Linked DNA regions of Homo sapiens: region 2 is reported to be linked to region 1. The links are microRNA targets in miRTarBase. Many come from high-throughput screens and were not tested one by one. Region 1 holds a microRNA gene; the other region holds the end of a gene's coding sequence.
What was found. The annotated mature microRNA hsa-miR-3919 reads GCAGAGAACAAAGGACUCAGU and lies in region 1 at 1,738-1,758, shown strand. An mRNA with a match to its seed (bases 2 to 7 or 8) in the 3' UTR can be bound and repressed. Matches are read on the target gene's strand: a 7mer-m8 pairs with bases 2 to 8, a 7mer-A1 pairs with bases 2 to 7 and ends in A, and an 8mer does both.

Region 2: miRTarBase lists ATP8A2 as a target of hsa-miR-3919. Seed matches in the 3' UTR shown: 7mer-m8 at 2,002-2,008.

The regions. Positions count from the first base shown.
Region 1 is chr3:159,280,963-159,284,138 of GRCh38, forward strand. It overlaps MIR3919 (microRNA 3919), which reads left to right and starts at 1,684; the gene lies at 1,684-1,772. All of the region lies in intron 4 of IQCJ-SCHIP1 (IQCJ-SCHIP1 readthrough), which reads left to right. The region is part of intron 1 of SCHIP1 (schwannomin interacting protein 1); the gene reads left to right.
Region 2 is chr13:26,019,627-26,022,811 of GRCh38, forward strand. ATP8A2 (ATPase phospholipid transporting 8A2) reads left to right here. Exons shown (of 37, transcript NM_016529.6): 37 at 262-3,185. The coding sequence ends at 359. Among named protein-coding and RNA genes, the nearest start is that of SHISA2, 31 kb to the right of the region's middle.

The DNA of each region.
Region 1 (3,176 bases):
GAAGGGAGTAATCCACGATTGCATGTGTTAAATACATTCCCTATGTGACATGTGGGGCAATCGTGGCTGTGGAGGCTTCTGTTTGGGTGCTTGGATGGACCCTACTGAAGATCACAGGACCTTTATAGGTCTTTCACAATCTCCCACATCAGTCTTTTTTGAAAGAGAGCTATTGCTTATGCAAAAGTCGCCCTTGCCAACTAAACCAAAGACTGGGCTAATTAGAAGCTAGGAAAAAGAAATACATCCTCTTGGAACTTCATTTTGGGATTTTGGAAGGAAGAGAAAGGCAGGAAGACCTGCTAGAATCTGGGGAAACATTTATTCATTCCCTGTAATTAATGTTTAAGCTATGTGATCATAATTACACCGAAATATTCTAAGTGGTTTACTTTATTTGGACAAGAATTATTTTCAAATACATAGGATTCCACATATGCGCCTAAAACACATATGCACATATATTTAAAAAATAATATGCTTTATATATTAAAAGATGATAAATTTTCAGTGTCAAGAGCTAAAAAGTATAGTTTTGAATGAATGTGCTTACACTTCTTAATGTATGTACATTTTGTATTTTCATGAAGACCTACAAATCTGTGCTGTGTCAGTGGAAGAAGGGAGCTATTTACATTTTAGAGCAAAGTACAGTGATCACTAATTTATCAAAAACTGACAGGAAATGAGGCTTCTGTATAAATGAAATCTATCAATAATGGACGGTTACTTTTTTTTCAGTCAACACATTTTGAATGGCATTGTTTCTAAACTACATTGTAATATTCTCTGTCTCATTTTATAGCAATGCCTATTCATTTATCGTTGTAATGTGTATATTCATTTTAGAAAATATGAAATGTTAAAAAATATATCTCACCATTAATCCAACAAAGACCCCTATTGTTAACATTTCAGTGAATTTCCTTGGAGATTCCGAAATGTGTATACACTAGGTATTAGTATGAATATATATAAATATAGCTCTTAAACATATTTTCAACATTTTTCACTGTGCTTTTAAAAACTTAATATTTTAATTTCTGTGTCATTAAAATTTCTTAAAGTTTTATGGTACAGTGTGAATGAGTAATATGAAATCACATAGACATATAATTTATTGAACTATGCCACTATAGTTATCAATGTCAACATTGAGTGTTCATATATTTTCATATTTTTGTTTCCTTACAAGAGATTACTGTAAGTATAATAAAAATTTATATAACATTTTTAAGGATATTGATATATATTGTTACATCCCTAGAACTGTTGTGCTAGTTCTGTTAATTTAATAGATTGAAAGTGGCCTGTGTTTAAAACCTGAATTTCTTTTTTAGTTGTTGAGGCTTAACATTTTCACATTTTGTGGCCATGTTGACTTATTCTGTGAATTGTCTATTGTTTCACTGAGATTTTATGTGTTAAATATTACGTATATATTATTAAGCTTTTGCATTCGTATATGTGAGATATATTTTCCTAGATTGCATATTTCAATCTTTAGAATTTTAAATTTTTTTTTGGAAATAAAACCTACTTAGTATCCCATTCACCTATATATTTTTGTGTTTTTTGAAAACTGGTTTCAACTTTATCATTTGTCTTAAGTTCATTGAAATTTTGGTGTATGGCATAATGAGAAATAATAGTCTTATTTTATTCCAAGTAGTTAACCCTTTACCTGAGCACCATTTACTGAGTCCTTTGTTCTCTACTAGTTTGTAGTAGTTCGTAGCAGAGAACAAAGGACTCAGTAAATGGTGCTCAGGAATCTTTACCATATGTTAAAAATAAATCCATTAGAATCTGTTTCTGAACTACCTTCATGAATAGACATGGTTTCACATGTCTATTCTAGTACCTATATTTTACTGTCTTAAATATTACATTTATATGATGAATTTTAATATCTAGCAGGGAATTCTCCACTTCATATATTTTCATGTTCTTGGATGGTCAGACTCATTCCAGATAAACTCTACAATTGTATAGTTAAGAAATTATTTAGAGACTTTAATAGCAATTGCATCAAATCTGTAAACTAATATAAGAACTGATACCTTTGCAAATTTGTTCTTACCATCTAGGAACGCTGTGTAGATAAATAAATATTGATAAGGACCTAAATATGCATAAGAACACGAATAGATATAGATATCAGGAAAGATTTGAAATTTCATATGTTTTATATTTTTTATTTTTTTTGAGACGGAGTCTCACTCTGTCGCTCAGGCTGGAATGCAGTGGTATGATCTCAGCTCACTGCAACCTCCGCCTCCTGGGTTCAAGTGATTCTCCTGCCTCAGCTTCCCGAGTAGCTGGGATTACAGGCCCATGCCACCATGCCCGGCTAATTTTTGTATTCTCAGTAGAGACGAGGTTTCACCATGTTGGCCAGGCTGGTCTCGAACTCCTGACCTCAGGTGATCCGCCGCCCGCCTTGGCCTCCCAAACTGCTGGGATTACAGGCGTGAACCATCATGCCCGGCATATTTTTTACTTTACTTACTATGATTGTTCCTATGTACATGGATTATGGATTATTTCCTTTTTTTTTTTTTGAGACGGAGTTTCGCTCTTGTTGCTCAGGCTGGAGTGCAATGGCGCGCGATCTTGGCGTGAGCCACCGCGCCTGGCTATTTCCTTCCTTTTGTTCCACCTCTAATTGGTTATTACTATAATATAGGAAGCGATGGCTTTTTGTTGTATTGATTTGTATCTTTTCAATTTATTAAAATCTCTTAATAGTACTTCAGAATTTTTTTAGTGGATTCTTTCGAGGTTGTTAACCATGTAATTTTCTCAACTGCAAATAATACTAAATTGCCTCTTCCTTTCCAAAAGTCTTATTGTATTGATTAGAAAATTCAACCTAAGCAAAATAGGTTGTCTTATTATCCATAGTTGATGCGATGAGTTATGGTCTGTTCTTGCATTGTGGTATTGCTGTTTGGTTTTAACGGGTAGTTCTTTATATGTTGCTTTTTATTTCTATTTTATGGTATGTTGTTTAAGTTTTTACATCTCTGCTTAAAAACGAAATTCACCTGTAGTTTGTATTTCTTTCAAGTTTGAATCAGGGCTGTGCAAGCTTCGTAAAATGAAAAGCTTCCTAGATTTTCCTTTGGTCTCTAATTTCATATAGCATGGTAATTACATGTTCCTTGAAAGTT
Region 2 (3,185 bases), not on the chromosome of region 1:
AAATAGGAAACCTACCCTCAGAGGCTTTCCCTTCCCAGCATCAGCAGCTAGAACCATGGGACCCCAGTTAGCCTGCACACGGCCGCCACGGCCCCTCTATGGCCACAGGTTTCTTCATCTCAAGCCTCCACCTATCCAAGGCTAAGGAGGCCAGATGTCGCACTCACCCGCACGCTGCCAAAAAAAAGCAGCTTATTTTAAACCTAGTGTGCTCCCCCAATTCTCCTGTTAACCAGTTTCTCCTGTGTGCTTCACTTTCAGATGGGTATGCTTTTTCTCAAGAAGAACACGGAGCTGTTAGTCAGGAAGAAGTCATCCGTGCTTATGACACCACCAAAAAGAAATCCAGGAAGAAATAAGACATGAATTTTCCTGACTGATCTTAGGAAAGAGATTCAGTTTGTTGCACCCAGTGTTAACACATCTTTGTCAGAGAAGACTGGCGTCAGCAGCCAAAACACCAGGAAACACATTTCTGTGGCCTTAGCCAAGCAGTTTGTTAGTTACATATTCCCTCGCAAACCTGGAGTGCAGACCACAGGGGAAGCTATCTTTGCCCTCCCAACTCGTCTGCAGTGCTTAGCCTAACTTTTGTTTATGTCGTTATGAAGCATTCAACTGTGCTCTGTGAGGTGTGAAATTAAAAACATTATGTTTCACCAATATTTAAACATCAGTACTAGTTGTCCTGGGAGAAAGGGAAAGGAGTTTTATGTTGCGTGAGAGGCCCATCCTGTGTAATTGGAGCAGGGCACACTTGCTTCCTGTTGAGTTAACTCAGAGGTTAAGTCCAACGGGCCACATGCAGACTTCACTGTAGGCAGGTTGCTCTCCTGCTTTGATTCCTGTTTTGTGTGTAAAATTGGCATAAACTTCTTGATTGCAGTGAAATCACAAAATTCTCTATCGGGGTGGTCAACCTGAGAACATTTATTTGAACCTCTTAGCCACATTTCCAGCAGGGCAAACCAACTGATGCCCTGGAAGAGTCTTCCGCACCCTCTCCAGGTGCACTCGGCCCAGTCCTGCCGCCGTGTCCAGGCGCCCCTCACCCCCACACCTGCTGCATGGCTGGCCACACCACTCAGTGCATGGCGGCCGATGGGCAGCCAACCCAAACCCGCGCCTTTCCTTGTTCCACTGCAGACTCAGATACAGATGCGAAAAATTCCTTCTTCCACCGCCCTTCTCGTTCTGTAAAGAAAGAAAAGAAACATAGCCTTTCTGCATATATTCTAAACGTCTCTCTGCCTCTGTCTGACATGGGGCCACCCCACAGGTCAGAGTGGTGGTAGAACCCCTTCAGGACTCCCAGCCGTGGTCAGGCTCTGAATACTCCCTTCCCAACATCCAGACTGCTGGGCCTTTGGCATCCACTTACATTAGAACCCACGTTTGTTTCAGAGCACATTTTGGACTTTCACTGTTGGGAAATGAATGAATTTATAACATGCCTGCACAGCGAAGGAACACACCTGTCGCTCTTAGCTCTAGAGTCAGAGGATGAGTAAACCCAGATGCAAGAGTATAGGACATTGAGTGGGGAGAACAAGACGACCACAGAAGTCCTCAGAAGGAGAAGGAAGGACACGGAGACACTGAGAGGAGGACACAGAGGAATCGCCACCAGATCTTTGCAGTAGAAACTCTGAAATAGGCCTTGAGACCCAGACAATTGTCATGATCAGCCCAGTGTGTATGAGAGCTTAAACAAGACCTTCACACACAGTTCTAATTGAAAAGAATTCCAAACATTTCAGGGAAACACCTTTTTAAAAAATATACTGACATGGTTTCCTTTCTGTATCCCATCAGTGTTAGACACAGGTACCTATCAGAATACGGCATATCCTGAATTATCTAAGACAAGGAAGTGAAGAGCGGAATCACTGACTTTCCCAACTGCAGAGTCCCACACTTAAATCTCAACAGAACCTAGATGTCTTCAGGCATGAATGTGAGCACCTGGAGCCCTTACTAAACAACCTGCCTGGAGCCCTGTTCTCTGCTCTGGTTGCCAAACCAGATTTTTGGATGGCCTAAATACTTGTGGGCAACTGTTACTGGTGAAAAATGGGAGTGGAGAGCATGTTTTGGATTTTCACTGTGGGGAAATGAATGAATTTATCACATGACTGTGCAGCGAAGGAGCACACCTGTCACTCTTAGCTCTAGAGTCGGAGGATGAGTCAACCCTGTAGGAATGATTGTGCTAAATTAGGAAATAACACTTTAGTGCACTTTGCTTCCTAACCCTTTTTTGTCAGAAATCTACAACCTACTGGGCATGGAAATGATTTAAAATATGATCTGCATTGACTAAGAAAACTCATCCTCACTTATGAGGTGACCAGGATGCAGAGAGGGCCTGAGGGGCAGCAGAACAATGCAATTCACAGGTGAGGCTCCAAAAAGGGCCATTTCTTTCTCCCCAAGGTGCATAGAACATTTTTAAATATCAGAGTACCCAGCAAGACGGAAGGACTGTCATGCAGGAACTCTAACACAAAATGTGCCTATGACTAACACGACAAACCAAGGTGTATGGTTTCTTTGCACACCCAGAAAGGTGATGGCCAAGATACAGAGGAGAAACGAAAACTGGAATTGAATGTGCATTAGGCATCTTAACTATTCATATTTTGTCTCATTTGGGAACTAAGCCTATTTGGAAAGAGTGGATTAGAAATTGAATTCTTTGTCAAACAGTTAGCTCTGTCTTGAACTTGAAGCCTTCCAAATCAGAATTATGTATTTAAGTGTGTGTTTGTGTTTGTTTGGGGTTTTTGTTTCTTACATTAGAGTTCATATTTTCTGGGATTTAAGGATACAGGTGTATTTTCCTATTCTCTTGAGAAGTAGACTAAACAATATTTGCAGTGATGACAGACGCACACAGAAGAAAACATTAGAAGAGATGCCTTTCTATCCTCTCATGTGGTTGAGCATTCTTACAGCCAAATGACTAAATTGGCTGTAAATTGGTTTCTAGGAGGAGCAGCTGTCACTACGTGTGATGTATAATATTTAGCCAGGGCCAACTCAGGGGCTGTGTCATTTGTCCTATCTTTAAATTGAGGTCAGAGTGTCACACACAACCCCTCCCCTGGGGCAGGGTGGACTGGACTAGGTTGCATACGCTGGCTGTCAGCTCAGCAAAAATGCCACATGGGGCTTGTCACTCC